Linked DNA regions of Homo sapiens. The protein of the gene in region 2 interacts with the protein of the main gene of each other region in a pairwise test. Each region holds a gene or a part of one and is shown on either strand. Other genes may lie near its edges.

Region 1 (7,886 bases), on a different chromosome or scaffold from region 2:
TTCCTTCCCTAATTTTTACAGCAATTTGTAATTTTATGCTTATTTGCTTAAGGCTCAACTCCCCAATAAACAATAAGTTCCATGAGAGTTGAGAAGGCCTCTATTTTCTTCCCCTTGGTACCACCTGCCACTAATGCAATGCCTGGCACATAATAGGTGTTCACTAGATCAAAAAAAAAAAAGTACTGGTCACTAGGCTTAGTACTTGGATGACAAAATAATCTGCACAGCAAATCCCCATGATATGAGTTTACCTGTATAACAAACCTGCACATGTATCCCTGAACCTAAAATAAACGTTTTAAAAAAATAGGTGATCACTAAATATTTCTTGACTGAACAAATGAGTGAATGAATGAATGACACCTGATAGCAGAACTGTAGCCAAAAATTTTATTTTGCTATTAATTCGAAATTCTGCAAAGAATTTGTAAGAAGACAAATTAAAGACATTAAAGACAGATTTTTGCATTGTTTGGTTTTCATTTCTCTACCTGACCTTAAGATAATTATGAACTGAAAGGACCACCTCACTGAGACACAAGGCGCGTTCTGGGCCTTGTCCATCCCGTTTCACACTGTGTATCCTTGAATGGTTCCTCTGTTTCCTTATCTTTAAAACAGGGAAAGAAAACCTCTCTCTTCCTAATTCCCACCTTCATTATAAGGTTCAAATGAGATCATATACAAGAAATCCCTTTGGAAGCTGTAAAGCAGCATATCAATGTAAGGCCATCGTGTCTTTGTACTTATCACACTCTGTAACTTCACAAAATTAAATGCTGAAGCTGCTTGTTTGCAGAGGTTTAATCATTTCCACCTGAGGACAGCAGGGACCCAGGCTGGAGAGGAGGTTCCGCCCCTGGCATCTGCGCGGCGAAATCCATATGTAAACGAGCCCTGCCCCCTGGTGGAAGGAGAAGGGTGAGCGTGCCCGGCAACTGGGATGGTCAGGATCCTAATGACAGACGCTGGCTGAAAAGGAGAATCCGCTTATTTAAGCATATACTTTTTAAAGAAATAGTTTGTCATTTTTTCTTTTTGTTGTTTTCATGTGTTTTTTAAATTAACAAATTATAATTGTGTATATTTATGTTGTACAACATGATGCTTTAAAATATATGTACTTTTTAAAGAAAACAAAAAAAAACCCAGGGTGATGTTTTAAAATATGTATACATTTTTAAAGGAAAAAAACCCAGTTTTCTTTTGATTAAGAAAAGTTAAAAAAAAGACAAAAAGAAAATACGTGTACATTGTGGAATGGCTCAGTCAAAGTAATTAACCCACACATCACCCCATATCTGTATCATCTTTTGTGGTGAAAACACTTAAATTCTACTCTCTTAGCAATTTTCAAGTATGCAATGCATTGTTGTTTCTTTTCTTGTTGTAAAATGGCCTTTTGGAAACATTTTACTTACTTATAAAGGATACAGACACGTTACACCAATGAGTTGTCTAATTATTATTTGGAGTTTAGTAATAAATGAGAGATTTGCAATTCTTTATACATTTTCATATTCTAATTCCTTATAGCTAAATCTCAGCAATTCAATTAGAATCATTTTACAACTCACGCGTGTTAAGACTATGGATGGTGTATGCTAGAAAATTTCAGCTTATATATTTCCCTATGTGTTACATGCGTTTTATTTAACTTTGTTATACTGTGTATATTGTGTACATACTGGACAAGTGAGTCCTAATTTTATAATATCTAGTCTCTAGATATTAAAGAGGTTGCCAATGTTTAAAAAAAGACTACAAATGGCAACATATAAAGTATTTGTATGAGCATGCATCATAGAGTAATTACTTATGTCTAAATATATTCACGGTGCCAGAATACCAAGGTCAACTTGAACATATGCCACGTTTTCACCTGGCCTATCCCTCACAGCTCTGAGCAAATTGTTCAACATTTCTGAGTCTCAGTTGCCCTGAACTGCCAAATAAGGGGCTAAATTAGGTGATGTCTAAGGCTCTTTGCAACTCTAAAAATATCCTACAACTTTGTCCAGAAAATGCATCTTAGAGGCCACACGCGAGCCACCCTCAGCACCAGCTAATCAGGCTCCAGACTGTTTAGGCCAAGGCAATTCCAGGAGACCACCCCTGACTATTCTGGTGGCAAAACAATTTTATACTTGTCATCACTCCCTGAACCCAGTCAAATCCAACCAAGTGGACTCAAAACCAGTCACGTCCAACCAAGTGTCTCCTGTCCCTTGTCCCTCCTTTTTCCTGCCCTGCCAACCCTCTTCATCCCCACCCTCCACAGCCATGGCCTCAAGAGGAAGGAGGCTTCTCCTTGGTCACCTCTCCTTCCCTTCCAGCCTGATGTCCCAGCCCTCCACACTCACACACCCAGTTAGGAACAACACCAATAGTAATAATAATGGCTTCCATTCATTGACAGTTTTCCATTTGCCAGGCACCGCACTAAGCATGATCTCATTTAGTTTTTCAACAAGCTTATGAGGTGGAAACTCTTTTTACCCACACTTTGACAATTACATGAACCTTTTCTGCAGACCTCTCTGCAAAATAGTTCAACTGAAATGATTCTTTAATAGCATTAACCACTTTCTGCTGAATTGTCCTAACAACTTTTTCTATCAGAAACTTATCCTTCATCCTCGATCTCCATTCCCATCTCTCTCCCCTTTCCTCTCATTTTCTCCCACATCTTTTCCTCTCATTTTCTCCCACATCTTTTCTTGTCATCTCCTCTCCATCCTCCTTCTTCACTTCCATCTCCTCTTCTGCTCCCACTTCCACACACCTAACATAAGGACTTCAAGGCAGAGTCTGTGTTCTCTAGATCCCCAATGCCACATCTAGCTTTGTGCCACTTAATTCTTATGCTAAGACTCCTCTTTTGAGGCAAATGCCATCCAATGGCCCCTCACCACATACACTCCCCTCTGCCTCATCATCCAAAAACCTTGACAATGGCTCACAGCCCACTTCCCTCCTGTCTCCTGCCATCATGAGAAACTTCACGCCTTTATAGATGGTACATTTAATGTCACAGACAGATAGTTCCTGACCTCCTACTCTCTTGCCTTTCAGGTCCAATCCACTTCTGACTTCTTGTTCCAGTGACTGTTGGTCCACTCCCATGACTACTCTGTGGACTTTGGTGACACCTGGAGTTGTGCCTACTTTAAAATTCTAAATTCTGGTTTCCACTATCCAATTTTAGCCTGTCATCCTTCACCTTTATCAATCTCCTCCTCACACTCCGCCTGCTCCATGACCTCATAAGGATACCCAATGACTCACCCTCTGCCCTTTTCTTCAGTCCATCTGTCCCTCTGGTTTTACTTTCTTCTTGCTATATGATCATACAGTCAATCGCCTCAATTGTTTTCTCAAGAACACCAGAAATTTCTTTGCCACTATTTCCTTCTTCTGGACCTGTCTTCAAATCCCAAAACCCACATCAATCTGATCATCATCCTTTCTATTCCTGCACCAGGATTACTTCCAAATATGCAGTTGAACATCATTATAAATGAGAGCTGGACCCTCCAATTTTCTTTTACTCATTGCTAGTCAAGTATTTTTCCAGTTCAGTATACATATTCTAAACAGTCATTCTTGCTATCAGTCACCTTCATCTGGAACATTCTGGCAACCCCTCAAATCCAGTTGGTCCAAACCTAAACTCAGTGTCTTCCTCCTCCTCTATTCCCCATCTCAGTGAATATTATGAGTTCCCAGAATCTAAAATTAATTACCTAAGAGTTATCCCCAATTCTGCCTTATTCCCTACTCTCCAAATTCAATCATATTACCATATGCTCTCAAAGCCATCTTCTCTGCATCCCCACTGCCTTCATCCTTCTCACCTGGACCATTATTCCAACCTTGTAATTGACCACCTTGTTTCATTTCAACCTGATCATTTTGCCCTCTGCTTTTTACTTAGGATTCATTACAAACTCTTTAGACCAGCACAGAAAGCTAACCATGATCCAGCCCCTGTCTGGACCTGACAATAGATTTCTTAAAGATTGTAATCACGCATTTTTCACTTCTGCATTTAGTTAACACTATGTCTTTCATTTTAGCACTTAGCATAGAGCACCAAACATCATAACCATGCTATTTTAAACAAAATAATAGGTCAATATTTGTGTCATTGTCCAAGATAATAAATAGATGTTATAATCATGGTAAGAACAGAGATGTCACTAGCCTCTGTTTTCTAAATAACACATTTTTTTCTGGTGGGATAAAATATCTGTTTCTGTAATTAGCAGTCCTTTATACCCCTCCATGGTAATTGAGACCCTACTGTACCTCACAGAACTCTATCATAATCTTACTTAACTTTATAAAAAATTTGATAATACCTGGCGCCAGATAATGACAGTATATGCCTAGGGTCTAGATGAAAGGAAAGGATTACTCACTCAAAATTAGAAGTTAAATTAATAAACTTAATATAGAACAAACCCTATTATATTTAAGATAAGAAATAGCCCAAAGCAACACCGAGGGATGTTAGACATTAATTATTTTTAAAATCACCCAATTATACATAATTTTATGCTAATCTAAGTGATGCCATTTTGCTTTTGGCATGTATAACTCAAATAGGAACGCCCCAATAATGATATATAAAAACCCAAAGAAATTATCAGTGCATGATATTCTGTTCTCTTGGGACATTACAGTTTTGCATAGACAAGGTGAACATTTCTCAAAACACCATGTCTCTCCAATTTTCTAATGGATCCAGGCATGTTTGCTTAAGGTCTGGAGCTGGATCTGTCAGACCCCTCAATGGAGGTGCAGGCTTTGCAGGCAGCAGTGCATGTGGTGGCTCTGTTGCTGGAAGTGAATTTTCCTGTGCCTTGGGAGGGGGCTTGGGCAGTGTTCCTGGTGGGAGCCATGCTGGTGGTGCCCTTGGAAATGCTGCTTGTATTGGCTTTGCTGGAAGCGAAGGGGGACTCCTCTCTGGAAATGAGAAGGTGACCATGCAAAATCTTAATGACCGCTTGGCATCCTACCTGGATAATGTGCGAGCTCTGGAGGAGGCAAATGCTGAATTAGAGAGAAAAATCAAGGGTTGGTATGAAAAATACGGACCTGGATCTTGCCGTGGACTTGATCATGACTATAGCAGATATCACCTAACAATTGAGGATCTTAAGAATAAGGTGAGAAATCACAGATTTGGAACTAACCCAAGTATTTAAAACTAAGAAATACCTAACAAAAGACATACAATAAGAAATGCTTCATGACTGTTATAACTTGTATTTATTTATTTAGATAAACAATTCTTCCTACTATTCAAAAATGGGCCCTTTGATTCATGAATTTTAATGTAGTTAAAATGTTATTAGTTCCATTGTTTATGTTGAAGTACATTCATAGGCATATGAATAAAAAAGTATTGTAGTTCTAAATTTAGGGGAATATATGAGAATAAATAAAACCATGTCTTTAATTTTTAAAAGTTAAACTTGAAACATTTTGATTATTACATAAGGAGGTGAAATTTTTATGCAAAAACTTGAGTAACCTTTTTCATTTCCTGAAATAATGAATCACATAAAAGCATACTTACTTGTTGTGTTCTCTGTTTTGGTTTATTCTAGATTATCTCCTCCACTACTACTAATGCTAATGTCATTCTGCAGATTGATAATGCCAGACTGGCTGCTGATGATTTCAGGCTAAAGTAAGTGACAGAAGAAAATCCTGCTCTAGAAAAAAGTTTCTATTTATTTAATTTGTTAAATAAAATTTCTATTTCATCCCAAGTAGAATGAACTATCACCTAAAAGATAAAAGGAAGCAAAGGATTTGTATTATAATGTTACAATCAACTTATACATAGTTATTATATTCCTGGGACAAAATATCAATATATTTCTCTGCCTGCCTAGAATACTGCCAAGCACAAAGTAGATGCTCAGTAAATCATTAGTCAACTAAGGAAAAACGTTAACTAAAATAAAATTCCAAAATGGTGTATTTTTATTTAACTAGGTTATGCTATTGGAATTTGTGTGATGAAATAACTTCCAATTATCCTGTACAGAATTGAGTGGGGGTAATGCAGGAGCGCTTTCTTCATATATTTTTATACTATTTACAGTCCTAATTCAATTTCTAATTTTCAGTTTAAAGCAATTGGGATTGAATATTTCTGTTTCTTGGGGTAGTCTTACTGGCACTGAAATTCACTTAAATGCCCCCCAAGGTATGAAAATGAGCTCACCCTTCACCAAAACGTAGAGGCCGACATCAACGGATTACGGCGAGTCCTGGACGAGCTGACGCTCTGCAGGACCGACCAGGAGCTGCAATATGAGTCTCTGAGTGAGGAGATGACATATCTCAAAAAGAACCACGAAGAGGTAGGAGAAGCTTTACCTGTAGTCCAATCACAACTCTGTACATTTTAAATACTGGGCAGGGGTTGGGGGTTAAAATCACAATAGTAATTCAGGTTCATTGTTATAATTTGCCAACGGATACAGACAGATTAGTCTAATAATACTACCTACTACGAGGGGATGTTAAAAGGCTTCAATGAATTAATACATATCACACGCTCAGAACAGTGCCTGGCCTATAATAATCACTCAATAAATGACAGCGGTCATCCCTAGGATGAATGCCTATGAGGGCCAGGATTTCAGGATTTTTTCTACTGTTCTATTCCCATCAACCTGACATTTAGTCAGTAACTATATGTTGAGTAACTCTCCGGTCTTTAAATCCCTTTCTCATTTAAAAGAATAAATTACTTCTCTTGGGGTGCTATGACTGTTTTTGGTGGTGGTGGTAATTTTAATTAACAGGTCCCTAATTTTTTTTGTTTGTTTTCTATTGCTTTGTTTTGAGACAGAGTCTCGCTCTGTGGCCAGGCTGGAGTGCAGTGGCGCAATCTCAGCTCACTGCAACCTCCACCTCCCAGGTTCAAGCAATTCTCCTGCCTCAGCCTCTGGAGTAGCTGGGACTACAGGCGCACACCACCAAGCCTGGCTAATTTTTGTATTTTTAGTAGAGATGGGTTTTCGCCATGTTGGCCAGGCTGGTCTGGAACTCTTGGCTTCAAGTGATCCGCCCGCCTCAGCCTCCCAAAGTGCTGGGATTACAGGAGTGAGCCACCTCGCCCGGTCAACAGTTCACTAATTAAATAGATGATTGGCATGAATATGGACCGAATATGTCAATTAAAAAATTGTGTGCCATAAATTATACACCTGACCGCAAACTTTGAGACATAAAGTAACACGTTTGAGAACTTCTCAGACTGAGTGTGAACCTGCAATGCCCCTAAAGCCACACTCTTGCTTCTCTCCAGGAGATGAAGGCTCTGCAGTGCGCGGCTGGGGGCAACGTGAACGTGGAGATGAACGCGGCCCCGGGGGTAGACCTCGCGGTTTTGTTGAACAACATGCGAGCGGAGTACGAAGCCCTTGCAGAGCAGAACCGCAAGGACGCGGAGGCCTGGTTCAATGAGAAGGTGAGGTGGGCCCCGTCTCCCTGCTCACACCTCCCCGGGGGTGGGGACTCCGTGTGACCCTTTTTCCCGGCCCTACAGAGCGCCTCGCTGCAGCAACAGATCTCCCACGACTCAGGCGCAGCCACTTTCGCCCGGAGCCAGCTCACCGAGATGAGGCGCACCCTGCAGACCCTGGAGATCCAGCTGCAGTCCCTGATGGCCACGGTAGGTGACAGCGAAGGTCAGCCTGGATCCTGTGATTCTAGAAAGCCTCCGAGAAACACTTCCCTCTGCCCTTCCTTCTTTTTTCCTATTATACCTTTGCCTGCAAATACTTAGCAGAGAGAGTGGAGGAGAGCAGGAAAAAACAGATGCATAGACACTCAAAAGAGAGCTTTTTCTTCCT
Region 2 (7,244 bases):
CTTCCTTATTTAATAAATGACAATTCTGTCCCTTCCAGCTGTTAGGCCAAAAGTCTTTGGACCATCCTTTGTTCATCATCTTCTCACACACTCCATATCCAATCCAGGATCTATAACATTGTCAGCTATTTCATGAAAACAAACCCATTTGTCACTATGTCTACATCTATCAATCTGATCTACTGTCATCTCCCACAGCTTAGCTTGTCTGCCTTTTCAACCCTTACCCTCCTATGGTCTATTCTTCCCATAGCAACTAGAGCGAGCCTTTTAAAATATTAAGTCAGAAAATGTCACTCCCTTGCTCAGAGTCCTCCAGTGACTTCCCATTTTACACAGTGAAATCTGAAGCCTTGACTAAGGTCTGTGAGGCCCTTCAGGACTTGGCCCTATTTGCCTTTCTGAGGTCATCTCCTACCACTTTCCCCCTTGCTTCCTCCTCTCTAACTGGCCTCTTTTCTGTTCCTTGAAAACGTCAATCATGTTCCTGTTGCAGAAGCTTTGCTTTTGCTGATTCCTCTGCCTGGAATGCCATTCCCCCAGATATCCAGATGTCTACATCTCTCACTTTTTTTAGGTCTTTCTTCAAATGTCACCTAACCAGATTTACTCTGTAACTCTCTATTCTCATAATCTGCTTACTTTTTCTACATAGTGATTATTACCACCCCCAACATAATATAGATTTATTTATTTGCTATAATCTGTTTCCCTCCACTAGACTGTAAGCTCCAATGAGGTCTCTGATACCATCGCAGAGCCATAGTATCAGCTCTAAATTTCCCACCTCCAGAAAAATAGGAACCCTAATTTGCTTGGGTATTATATTACGAGCTTCTGGTTTTTATTTGAATTTTGTGTTTTAGCAGACCCCTTCTGACAATACTCCAGCAGGGGAATAGAATGCCACCTCATTACTGCCAGACAGTGGTGGAAGTTCAGGTTCTCGACTCAGCCTCTGTTGCCACTTGGAGGGAGGAACTCCTCATTACTGCTGGGTGGGGGTGACAGTTCAGGCCCCTAGTAGCTCTGCACTGATACCACCTTGGCTGGGACGGGTAGGGATGCCTCATTACTCTTTCCTACGTGGCCTCCTCCGACACTGTGTAAGGTGGGTTCCCTCGTTATCATTACCACTCAAAGTGTCTTGCGTTCCTTTGCTATGGTAAGTCTCCCTTGGGGTTGTTGGTGATTTGAGGCAAGATTTGGATATTCCTGAGTCCCTGGGCCATTGCACCAATTATGCCTCATATGCCACCTGTTTCTAATATAAATGGATAGCCTCTATGGGTAATTTGACTAGCTGTCCTTTATAAGCCAGCTCTTTTGTTGATTCATCTTTTTATTTTCCTATTCTTGAACCATTTTAAGTAGTGTATAACTTGAAGATTTATAAGATTAGCATAAAGTATTTGCATTTTCCCCTTTCTCCTTTTTAGAGAAAATTTGGAAACCATTTCATTGCATGGATTGTATAGTGCACCTAGCTGTGTGCTGCTCATCTTGTACTCTAGCATTTGTACAGATTATAGGTATAGTTACTCCACGGCACTATGGGTTGGCCAGTGGATTTCCCCATAAATGGCTATGCCATATATGTTTGTGCTTTAATATGGCAACATGTGAAACATATTTCTGTCATTCTATAACACTTTCTATTATAAGAAGCAACAATAACTTAATAATTGCTTTTAGAGGAAACAGGGAATAATAGCCAAATGTATCTTCTGATTTCAAGACACAACCTAACTTAAATAACATTTAAGGGTGAAAACTGTGAGTCTTAGTATGTTACCCTTGGAGAGTCCATGAAAGCACATGGGTATGTTTTGTCCCTGGCTGAAGCCATTCCTATGTAACCATTCCCCATACATTCTCCAATTAAAAAGGCAAGTCCTCAATACCCCAAGTGTATCTATGAAAATAGTCCTGGATTCTCTTCATTTTTTCACACCCTGCTTTTATACAACCTCATTTCTATCTAATTCTGAACTCTTGATTCAACTCTTCTCTAGTCTTTTGAAATTGGTATTTATATTTTATTTCCCTGTTGTTTGACAGTTTATTGCCTTTAATAAGCTGTCATTCTTTCAGTTCACTCATTCATTCAACAAATGTTGACTGAGCTGGGAGCAGTGGTTCATGCCTGTAATTCTAGCACTTTGGGAGGCCAAAGTGGGAGGATTGCTTGAGTCCAGGAGTTCAAAACCAACCTAGGCAACATAGTGAGACCCTACCACTACAAAAAACAAAACAAAAAGATTGCCAGTCTTGGTGGTGTGTACCTCCCAGCTACTCAGGAGGCTGAGGTGGAGGATTGCTTGAGCCCAGGAGGCTGACATTGCAGGAAGCCAAGATCACACCACTGTACTCCAGCCTGGGTGACAGAGCAAGACCCTGCCTCAGGAAAAAAAAAAAAAAAAAGTTGACTGCATAATTACCCTATGTCAGGCACTGTGCTTGTCCCTGTGGTGTGACAGAAGAGAAGACAAAACATTGCTGAACAGAGCTAGGGCCCCTGGAATACGCTGGCCTATAGTGTTATAGGACCAACTTCTTAACGTTCTTATTACCACTGATACTTGTGTTGCTACTTCTCTTGCCAGCTTTTCTATTTTTGTCTCTATTTCTCCTTTTCCTTCTGCTTCTTGAGTTCAAGGAGGGTACAACTTTTATACTAACTGCTGTCCAATGAGACTGCTTCTTTCTTTTGGGGAGAGAACAAACGCACTCATCACATATCTGTAATATTCATGTTTTTAGCACTTCTCTGTTTCACCAGTGCTCTGATTAGAGGCTCACAAAGTCCCAGGTGGTTCCAAGGTGCCATACAACTAAGCACCATAGACAACCAGGTCAGGTTAGGTGGGATGCACCTGATGTACATATCTACATTCACACATATCAGATTTTTAAGAAAATGTATGTTGTAACTAATCTTTTGTAAAGATTTTCCTGTGAAACGTATGTGCAAATTTATCCTACACAGTGGTACTTTTTCATCTTTCCTTAAACTTACTAGCAGTTTGATTAGGTCTCTTGTAGAAATCTTCCCTTTCTTTCCTTATTTCCTTCCTCCCTCTCTCTCCTTCCTAATAACTTTCCTTCCTTTCAAAAACATGCATTTAATTCCTACAGTCACTCAGCACTGCTAACATTTCAGAGTCTACCGTCAAGTTTGACATGTCAGGATTTTAACCCAGATGTACTTTACTTTGTTTCTTCTTCAGAGATACAAGAAACTGGAAGAACTTGTCCAGTTTGATTACTCTGGGGAGGAATATACGTGTATATGGGGGGAGGTGAATAAAGTATGAAGAGAGGGAGAGTAAGGGGGTACAGTCTGGGCTAACCAGAAAGCAAGGGAATTAACCAAATTTAAAAAGAATTTTCAATGTGCAAAAATAATATATAATTTATTCAGGTACCAATATGTTGACTTACATCAGAAAAATTAGATTTTATTTTATAAACTGTAATTAAAACTGTGTTTAACTCATCAAGAACCTGGTAAGTAAAGTTATGATTCATAAAGTCAAGAACCTGGTAAGTAAAGTAAAGATGATTAATATATCTCAGAGGGAAAGAATACTTTAAGGGTTAAGAAAGATGCACACAAAAAGAGTATAGTTTTAAAGGACCTTTTGAATCAGATGCAAGAAGTTATGATTTAATATTCATCTACCTTGGTTCTTTGAAAATAATGACTTTCACAGCAGATAAGAAGAATCTGGTGGATCACGTAGCAGTACCTAGATGTTTAGGAAGCATTTGACAAGATTCTATGAATGAGATCAATGGCTAAGATAAAAGTCACAGAATAAAAGGTACAGTAAAAGATTCAGTAGAGAAAAATGAGAATTTGGTTGAAGATGTATGCACACACATTTTGTTCCCTCCCCAAATCCTACTAACACAAAGTAAAGGGATATTTTTAACCTAGAAGGTCAAACCTAGAAGGATAAAAATAACAGGAACTAGCAGTGGACAAAGCCAAGTAGCAAACCAACTAGATACATCTGGAAGTAGCAAGTGAGTGTCAGCCTGAAAACAGGAGGAATGGCTAAGAAGGGGTTGACTCCTAGATCTCCTCACTGGCATTCGAATCCAGGCATATTCTCTGGAGAAGCTAAAACAGAAAGGCTCTGGACTGGGGTTGGGGAACACCAGGTACAGTAGATGGCAGGACCACTGTACTGGAAACTGGGGGGGTTAAGGTCAACAATGTAAGTCTGAATTCAGCCCCCTCATCCTTTTCAGCTCCCAGAATGCTGGTATACTCTCCAGGTAGGAAATTAGAATTCTCTGGAATCTGATTAGCCTGAGACAAAAGACTGAAAGAGAGTGACCTGGGGTCCTGCAAGGAAACTGCCTAGTCTGATGACTATGGAGTAAAGACCACTGTCAATAAGCCCGCTGATATGGTTGGCTCTGTGTCCCTAACCAAATCTCATGTCGAATTGTAATTCCCAGTGTTGGAGGAGGGGCCTGGTGAGAGGTGACTGAATCATGAGGGCGAACTTCCCCCTTGTTGTTCTTGTGATAGTGAGTTCTCAGGAGATGCAACTCCCCCCTTCTCTCTCTCTCCCTCCTGCTCTGGCCACATAAAACATGCCTCCTTCCTCTTCGCCTTCTGCCATGATTGTAAGTTTCCTGAGGTCTCCCCAGCTATGCTTCCTATTTGTTTTTTGGGTTTTGTTTTTTGTTTTTGTTTTGAGATGGAGTTTTGTTCTTGTTGCCCAGGCTGGAGTGGAATGGCACAATCTCGGCTCACTGCAACTTCCGCCTCCCGGGTTCAAATGATTCTCCTGCCTCAGCCTCCTGAGTAGCTGGTATTACAGGCATGCACCACCACACCAGGCTAATTTTTATTTTTAGTAGAGACGGGGTTTCTCCATGTTCGTCAGGCTGGTCTTGAACTCCCAACCTCAGGTGATCCACCTGCCTTGGCTTCCCAAAGTGCTGGGATTACAGGCGTCAGCCACTGCACCTGGCCTCTATTTGTTAATCTAACCATATGCTATTTATATGTGGAGAAAAACTTGATATGACCTAAAAAAGGTTGAAAACAAGGTGATGAACAAAGATATTATTGATTAAAGTAAACTAAAAAGAAAGCAGGGATGGTAATATTAATATCAGGCAAAGTAGAATTAAAACAGAAAACATTAGTTTATACTTGTGCTATATTTTATAATGTTAATCATATAATATGCTGAGAAGATATACGCATAAACCTTGACACATCAAGCAACAGAACACTGAAATATGTAAACCAAAAATTGTTAGTAATACAAGAAGGACTAGACAAACTACAATTATAGTGAAGATCTTCCTTAGAATTTGACAGATCAAATAAACAAAAATTAATGTAACTGTACTTGAAAAACACAAGTTAAACATAATAACAACAATTAAAATGTTTGATTATATAACTTTTTTAGCCTTTTTACTCAACCAAAAGAGAACATACATGTGTTTTCAAATACCCAAAGGACATTAATAAAAGTTGATCCTGCAATAGACTACAAGAATAATCTTAGTGAAATTGACAGAGTCAAAATCATATAGTCCATATCCTATGACTATGACAGTAGAAAGATTAAAAAGTAATAATAAAAAGATAACTAAATGCCCCTTGAAATTACATTTTGTAAATATCTCTTGAGTCAAAGAAGATATCAAATTTGAAATGATAGATTATTTAGAAAATGATGGTGAGAACACTAACCCTATGGCAGGCAGCAAAGCTGTGCTCAGGAGGAAACTTACATGCTTTTATTATTTAAAGAAATCATGAAATCCAGAAATCATGAAAATAACTGAAGCACATTTTTCAACCCATGGGAACAAGATAGAATAAACCATAAAAGGGAAAACTAGTAAGTAGAAATTCATGAATAAGAAAACAAAAACAAAGCAAAACCTAGAGAAGGTTTTCTTAAAAAGGCCAATAAAAGGGATCACTTATTCTATAATTATGTTCTGGAAACACACTTTAAAAACAAAAAGAACAAACATAAAATTGAGTTTCAATTACAAGGAGTTTAGATTATTATGGCACAAATACAAACACCTATAATTGGAAGAAATCATGGATAAATTAACATCAAACCCGGTTATAACCATGATATCAGAGAATATTGATTCACTCACACTGAAAATGTTCTGTGGGAAAGCTCCCACCATAGGCCTTGGCACTTTCTGCTCCTGCTCTGTGTAATCTTTTCCCCAGATATAATCTCTGCTCGAATGCTGCCTTACCAAAGTATCTTTATTTGACCACTCCATTCACACTCTCTATTTTTCCCACCCTTAGCCTGCTTTATTTTTCTTCATATCACCATATGATACAAATTTATACGTTTATTATCTGTCTCTTCCACTATGGTATAAGCCCCTTGAGAAGAAGTTGTCTATTTTGTTCACTGCTACCTTCCTGGTGCCTAGACCAGTAAGTAGCTCACAGTAGACTCTAAATAGGTATCTGTTAAATGTAGGCTGCTCCACAAAACATTACTGTATATGTAGATGACATGGTTTAATAAGCTACATAACAAGTCCCTGATGATGAAGTTTTATTGTATTCATGATCTAGATTTATACATAACTCTCAATAGCATGTGGGACTGAGGCAATGCCAACCTGGGGTCTCCATGCTTTGGAGACCGTGGTAGGCAGTGTGTGGACCCATGTCTACTGTGATGAGTGGAACAGTACCTCAGGAAAACCTCTAAAAACTCTCATTAACTTGGGGGGTTGTAATTACACCATACCCAAACAAGTTCTACTGTTCCTTACTAAATTCTAAGTTCTTTAAAGACAAGGTCTGTTTCTTAAATGACTCCATGGCCTTGGATTTGTAGGAGTGAAGTGATATCTGGGACCCAACCTTAGGTTCAACATCTTCAATCTGCATCTTAGCTCTTAGTGCTATCATCACACCAGGGACCCAACACATACTTAACCCAGAATCCTAACCTGGCTCTGCTATGGATACCAGGCAGGCTGCTCCCTGCATCTCATTGCCATCCATTTCCAATGTAGGAAGGAACACAGGGATTGGAGCCAGGCATACCTGAATTCAAATCCTACTTTCTCTACTAACCTGGTGTATATTCTAGGATGAGCTCCTGCTTTTTTTGTCTTTCTACCTTTCTGAGCCTCAATGTGGTAGAGGATGCTAGTTTTTCAGCAATATCCATTCTTCCTCCTTTGTTCTAGAACTTCTAAGCTTCATCTGG
Region 3 (7,244 bases), on a different chromosome or scaffold from region 2:
TTGGGATTACTGGTGTGAGCCACCGCGCTTGGCCGTGTTAGTGTTCTTTGAAGCACAAAAGTTTTAAATGTTTATTACATCCAATTTATCTATTTTTTTCTTGTTTTAGGTATCATATCTAAGAAACTATTGCCTAATCCCAATTCCAAGAAATATTTATTTATGTATTTATTTATTTATTTATTTATTTTTGAGACAGAGTCTCACTCTGTTGCCCAGGCTGGAGTACAGTGGTGCCATCTCAGCTCACTGCAACCTCCACCTCCCGGGTTCAACCAATTTTTCTGTCTCAGCCTCCTGAGTAGCTGGGATTACAGGTGCGCGCCACCATGCCTGGCTAATTTTTTTTGTATTTTTAGTAGAGACAGAGTTTTACCATGTTGGTCAGGCTGGTGGTGAACTCCTGACCTCAGGTAATCCACCTGCCTCGGCCTCCCAAAGTGCTGGGATTATAGGCGTGAGCCACCACATCCAGCCAAGAAATTTATGTTTAAGGGTTGTAGCTCTTACATTTAGGTCTTTGATCAGTTTAGAGTTAATTTTTGTATACAGCATAAGGTCCAACCTTATTCTTTTGCATGTGGATATAGTTGTCCGTATGTTGAAAAGATTATTCTTTCCTTTTTTTTTTTTTTTGAGACGGAGTCTTGCTCTGTTGCCCAGGCTGGAGTGCAGTGGCGCTATCTCGGCTCACTGCAAGCTCCGCCTCCCAGGTTCACGCCATTCTTCTGCCTCAGCCTCCCGAGTAGCTGGGACTACAGGCGCCCGCCACCAAGCCTGGCAAATTTTTTGTATTTTTTAGTAGAGACAGGGTTTCACCATGTTAGCCAGGATGGTCTCAATCTCCTGACGTCGTGATCCGCCCTTCTCGGCCTCCCAAAGTGCTGGGATTACAGGCGTGAGCCACCGCGCCTGGCCAGAAAAGATTATTCTTTCCTGACTGAATTGCTTTGGCACCTTTGTCAACAACAATTGCCTTATAAAGTATGAGTTTTTTAAATTTCTGGACTCTGAATTCTGTTCTACTGATCTGTATGTCTATCTTTAAATCATGTCACACAGTCTTGATTTCTGTAGCTTTGTAGTAAGCTTTGAAATTGGGAATTGTGAGTCTTTCAACTTCGTTATTCTTTTTCAAGATTATTTTGCCTATTTTGGGTTTGTTGCATTTCCATATGGATTTTAGAAACTGCTTTTCAATTTCTGCAAAAAATCCAGTGGGGATTTTGATAGGGATTGCACTGATAAGTAGATCAATTTGGAGACTATTACTGTCTTAACAATATTAAGTCTTCCAATCCATGAATTTGGGATGTCTTTCCATGTATTTAGGTCTTAAATTTCTTTTAGTGATGTTTTGTAGTTTTCATTGTACTTGCACTGCTTTTGTTAAATTTATTCCTATTTTATTTGTTTTGGTCTAATTTATAAATGAAATGTTTTAAAAATTACATTTATGGATTGTTCTAGTGATTTTTTTAATGGAGTGATATTCATACTTTGTTACTTGATTTTTTTCTCTCCAAGATGCATCAATCTCAAATAATTCTACAAGTAAAAGGAAATCTGAGTCTGCCACTTGCAACTTAGTCAGAGACATAAACAAAGTGGGAATTGGCCTTGTTGCTGCCGCTTCATCTCCGCTTCTTGTGAAAGATGTCATTTGTGAGGATGATAAGGGAAAAATCATGGAAGAAGTAATGAGAACTTATTTAAAACAACAGGAAAAACTAAACTTGATTTTGCAAAAGAAGCAACAACTTCAGATGGTAAAATTGTTATCTAAATGATAGTCCATTATGAAAAGATACTTTTGTATATTGCTCTGTCGCCCAGGCTGGAGTGCAGTGGCGCAGTCTCAGCTCACTGAAACCTCCACCTCACAGGTTCAAGCAATTCTTCTGCCTTAGCCTTCCGAGTAGCTAGCATTACAGGCACGTGCCACCATGCCTGGCTAAATTTTGTATTCTTAGTAGAGATGGGGTTTCTCCATGCTGGCCAGGCTCGAACTTTTGACCTTGTGATCCACCAGCCTTGGCCTCCCAAAGTGCTGGGATTACAGGTGTGAGCCACTGCGCCCAGCCCCCCTGTATATTCTTAGTAAGAAAAGTCAAAACGAGATGCTACAAATGTACTTAAGATTATTGTTTTACACTGAAAAGCAATTTTAATATATTTTAAAATTTTTTGAGAAAATAGTTTTTTAAAATAATTACCTCTATATAGAACTGATAATGATAGCTGAATTTTAGGTATTTTCTGTGCTATGTTTTCCAGAACTGAAAATTTTAACATGGTGAAAATAAAGTAAAACTTGTATTGTGATTCTTTACATTACAGGAAGTAAAAATGTTGAGTAGTTCAAAATCTATGAAGGAACTCACTGAAGAACAGCAGAATTTACAGAAAGAGCTTGAATCTTTGCAGAATGAACATGCTCAAAGAATGGAAGAATTTTATGTTGAACAGAAAGACTTAGAGAAAAAATTGGAGCAGATAATGAAGCAAAAATGTACCTGTGACTCAAATTTAGAAAAAGACAAAGAGGCTGAATATGCAGGACAGGTAAGAATTACTGTTTGTATAATGGTGCCCTTTCAGCATGGAAATGGAAACTGTTACTTCTCTCTTTTTTTTTTTTGAGACAGAGACTGCTCTGTCGCCCAGGCTGGAGTGCAGTGGCACAATCTCAGCTCCCCACAACCTCTGCCTCCCGGGTTCAAGCAATTTTCCTGCCTCAGCCTCCTGATTGTAGCTGGGATTACAGGCGTGCGACACTATGCCCAGCTAAATTTTGTATTTTTTAGTAGAGACGGGGTTTCACCATGTTGGTCAGTCTGGTCTTGAACTCCTGACCTCATGATCTGCCCACCTCAGCCTCCCAAAATGCTGGGATTACAAGCATGAGCCACTGCACCCGGCCACCGTTACTTCTCTAATAAAGGAATTACTTTTTGTCAAGCTCAGTTTACTAAGCTAGATTTCAAAATAGATAATTCTGTTAAACATAGCTTTATGCTGTATTGTCCAAGATGATTATTTTGATGTTTGTTGCTTTTATTAGTTTAAATTTTTATCGGGTTACTGCAGTTTAGTTACCTAAATTGCTAATCTCTAGCCCTCTGAATATTATATGTTATATTATTTTAATGTAGTATATGAGCTTTCAAATCTACAAATTAACAAACAGGAACTGTTGCCTGTTATGTTCAAAAGCACTGGAGCAAAAATAAGCAATTCTCTTTTGTTAATAGAATCTCACAATTTAAGGAACATGAACAAATAACTAACATGAGCAGGCTGTGATGAGCGGTATAGTAAAGTATAGGGCATAATGAACATGAACATGCTGGATGTGTTCCTTCCTCTTGTTCCTTTGCTTTTTCTTAAATTTAGTGTCCTGTCAGATGTCAGATTAATAGTATTAGATGCTTAATGGATTTAGTATACATGAAATAGTTCGTTTTGTAAAAAGTAATTTGAAAATAGATATTTTCTATGATATGAGGATTAAATGGAAAAACAAAACAATTAAAATTGATAGCGCCTTTTAAATCACATAGTTGGCAGAACTGAGGCAGAGATTGGACCATGCTGAGGCCGATAGGCAAGAACTCCAAGATGAACTCAGACAGGAACGGGAAGCAAGACAGAAGTTAGAGATGATGATAAAAGAGCTAAAGCTGCAAATTCTGAAATCATCAAAGACTGCTAAAGAATAGAAACTGTTAAAGAGATTCATCTGTGTATTACTGACAAGGTTTTTTTTGTTTGTTGCTTGCTTTGGTAATTGAATTCTGAAGAATTTATCTGCATGACGATAACTAGGCATTCTATCCATTTGTAGATCAGAGAAAGTGAAGAGATTATATATTAGTACTTAAATTTTTACATTTTCCAAATGAATGAAAATGTATGTTTCTTTGTACTTTTTTAAAAAAATCAGCTTAGTAACAATACTATATGGTTTCAACTAGTAGGTAATCTGCTTATATTTCTAATGCAAACTTAACAATTGTGTACTTTTTAAAAGCTGCAATATGTGTTGGAAAATAGCTGTGGTCAATTTTGTTATCCATATTTCAGACTCAATTTTAGATACAATGGTGGCTTTATATTTTAAGTATATAGAGCTACTCAAGGAGTTGAATCTCCCCTTTTCTCATTAACACAATTTTTCTAAGTTGATATGGTGTACTCATTAACATACACCAAATTTACTTTTACTTTGTTCAGATTGTGGAATGAATTTCCACCAGTTCTCTTCTTTTTAATGTGTACCCTAGGAGGAATTTTACTGAGGTTATAGCATACCCCATGAGCACAGTGGGGAAGAAGAATGTGTTGTTATGTGCTGCTGCTAAACAGAAGCAGCAGTTGTAATTTGTTTTTCAGTTTAAATGTGGTTATAGTTAGATTTTTTTTTAAGCAGCAACTTTTCAAAAATAAAATGTGATAATTTCTGAACTTTTGTTTGTGTTGTTAATAGTGGTGTGAAAATATTAACGTTCTTGAGAAAAACTGATACCACTGTTGTGTATCAGTTTCTATACAATCCATAATCCTCCTGTACAGTTTTTACATGTAGTTATGAGTCTTACTAAAATTTATATAATGGACTTGTTTTCCTTTAAGTTGTAAAATGTTAAACACCTTGAAGGTTATTTTGGACTTCTGTATGTTTAAATGTTGTCTTACCAAAATTTGCACGAATGGACCATTTTCATTTACTACTTAATATCAAAATCAGGAATTTACAGTCAACTGATAGTACATGATAGGTGCATATAGGACAGTTTAGTTACCTGCTACTAAAAGATTTTTAGATAAGTTTTAGAAGATAAAGGAATTCCATAGTTTCAGGAGGGACAACATCTTCTGCACTTTTTTTTTGCACAGAAAAGTCTGTCATTCTCTAATGGCAAATTTCATATTTGTTAATTCTTGGCTCAAAATATATTAGGTAAAATTCTTAGATCTGTTTTTAAAGGGAGTTTCCTGAAACTATCATTAATTGACATTATTACCCCATGGATTTTATGGGATAATAAATGTTTTTCATGTTCTCTTATAAGATACTATGTATGAAATTACTTCAGAGAGCTATATTTATTTTAAAATAAATTAGCTAGGGTTAAGGTTATATTCTATTTCCAGCATAGAAGGTAGATAATCTAATGGTGTAGAAAGAATCACTAGGTTGTCATTTAACCAGTTATTTTCATATTTTGCTTAATAGTACATATCCAAAAAGAATTTTGTACTTCCCCAAATGTAATTTATTTACTAAATTGAGTATAACCTAAATGTGTGTTTTCTATTTTCCATTTAAATTTTGCTATATTAAGACTAATTTAATTCGTTGAGTCTTGGAATCTTCTCAAGGAGGAACAAATATTAAAATGACATGTAGAAACAAATTTTTTTTTTTTTTTTTTTTTTTTTTTTTTTGAGACAGAGTCTCGCTGTCTCCCAGGCTGGAGTTCAGTGGTGCAATCTCGGCTCACTGCAAGCTCTGCCTCCTGGGTTCAAGCCATTCTCCTGCCTCAGCCTCCCGAGTAGCTGGGACTACAGGCACCCACCACCACTCCCGGCTAATTTTTAGAAACAAATATTTAAAATGACATATTCTCCCAATACAATCTATTTAGATCTGGAGAAGGAAAAATCAGATATTTATGATATAGTTTTATTTTAATTTTGAATTATTTGTGTCACAGCTCAGCTTTTTGGAAGACAAACTCAAACACCTATAATTTCATTTATATTTCTAATTCACTTGGAACCTTTCTGCTTTATGTTACCTAGAAAATGATAATTTGTTTAACCCAAAACTTCTAAAATAAATTGCTTAATCCTTGAAATATGTTATTGGAAAATTTTAAGCAGTGCTTAAACACCATTAAATTATTATGAACTTGTAATTCAGAATTGAGTAAAGAAATATTTTTTCTAGTCCTTCATATATTGAAAACTTGCCACATGACATTGTATCGTCTTCATTTTCCAGAAGATGCGTTGGTGTGCCATAGGTTTCTAACTTCCTTGAAAATAGTTTTTTAAGTCAATTGTAAATATACGTATTATTGTTAAAAGTAACTTTAAACTGCAACACATAGCTTCAAAACAATATAGAGATTTTGTAATACCTTATAAGTGGAGTTGGCTAAAATACCTTATCCATATAAAACTTATTCTATTCTTTGCATGCTTATTTTGTGTGTTGGTTGCTAGCTTAAAGTTTGATTTGTTGTTACTCTTTGTGTGCCAAATTCACTAGGCAAGCGGATTTTTCCTCAGACTTCAAAAAATAATTCTTTTAAGAAAAAATGTAAAAATGTTTATTCTAAAAAGCTGCATTAAAGGGACAACCTATAAAAAGTTTTGCTAGCTCATCTTTAGAAGGAAGAAAGAATATTAGCTTGGGTGATGTTTAATTTGGGTGGCGATAGTTTCTGTAGGCTAAACTTTATGAGAAAAGTGTACCTACTCTATAAAGGTAATAAATGTAAAACCTCTTGCTGTTATTGAGGAAGCTCTTCAACTACCCTAAATTTCACAAATGTAACTTATAACACTATGAAAAGATTTGACCAACAATTTACGTTTGCTGTGTGCTTTAGTTTTTGTTTAAGCATATTCTTTTGCTTGAATTTCTGTGTTCATGAGAGTTAGGGTGTTTTATGCTTCTTGAACTAATTTTATAACATATTTAATATATTACCAGTTAAGATATAAAATCATTTGTACATAGCGAATTGTAAAGCAGCTATTAAAGTAGGTGAAATAAAGTATATATTTGCCGGTTATCCATATCTTTTAGAAGTCCTGACAGAACAACCAGTTTATTTGCACATAGGTAGCTTCTGTTTGAAGGAAGGTAAAGTTATAAGGAAACTCAAATACTATAAGATGTGTCAAGGTATTTCTCCAGAATTAATTGCAAAGCTAGTGCTGAAGGATTTTAATCAGCTTCTAAAATTTTCTTCTCAATAAGGCATATGTTTTGATTACTTAGGGAAGATTCCTCATTTTTATTTGCCCTTTATGCATTTAATCCACATGATAGGACATTAAAAATTAATATAAAGAAAAATCGTGCTCATACTGTACATCTGTTTCTGTGCTTGGAACTACTTGTTAATAGTTTTTATCGAAGCTGTCAGCAATAAGGGACATAAAACTGCTGTATTATACATTGTGGAATTGAATAAACAGCCTAATTTTTTTTTTCTAGTATAGGG

The links. The genes of interacting proteins can lie anywhere in the genome.
Region 1: the proteins of DEUP1 (region 2) and KRT28 interact in binary tests that used the Homo sapiens proteins (3 or more experiments, as listed by UniProt).
Region 3: the proteins of DEUP1 (region 2) and SKIL interact in binary tests that used the Homo sapiens proteins (3 or more experiments, as listed by UniProt).

What each region holds. Positions count from the first base shown.
Region 1 is NC_000017.11:40,796,735-40,804,620, reverse strand, and holds the start of KRT28 (keratin, type I cytoskeletal 28), read left to right. Parts: upstream 1-4,661; 5' UTR 4,662-4,727; coding exon 4,728-5,177; intron 5,178-5,621; coding exon 5,622-5,704; intron 5,705-6,229; coding exon 6,230-6,386; intron 6,387-7,339; coding exon 7,340-7,501; intron 7,502-7,579; coding exon 7,580-7,705; intron 7,706-7,886. UniProt on the Homo sapiens protein: Essential for the proper assembly of types I and II keratin protein complexes and the formation of keratin intermediate filaments in the inner root sheath (irs).
Region 2 is NC_000011.10:93,333,585-93,340,828, reverse strand, and holds part of DEUP1 (deuterosome assembly protein 1), read right to left. Parts: intron 1-7,244. UniProt on the Homo sapiens protein: Key structural component of the deuterosome, a structure that promotes de novo centriole amplification in multiciliated cells.
Region 3 is NC_000003.12:170,388,696-170,395,939, forward strand, and holds part of SKIL (ski-like protein), read left to right. Parts: intron 1-1,527; coding exon 1,528-1,769; intron 1,770-2,340; coding exon 2,341-2,565; intron 2,566-3,563; coding exon 3,564-3,722; 3' UTR 3,723-7,244. UniProt on the Homo sapiens protein: May have regulatory role in cell division or differentiation in response to extracellular signals.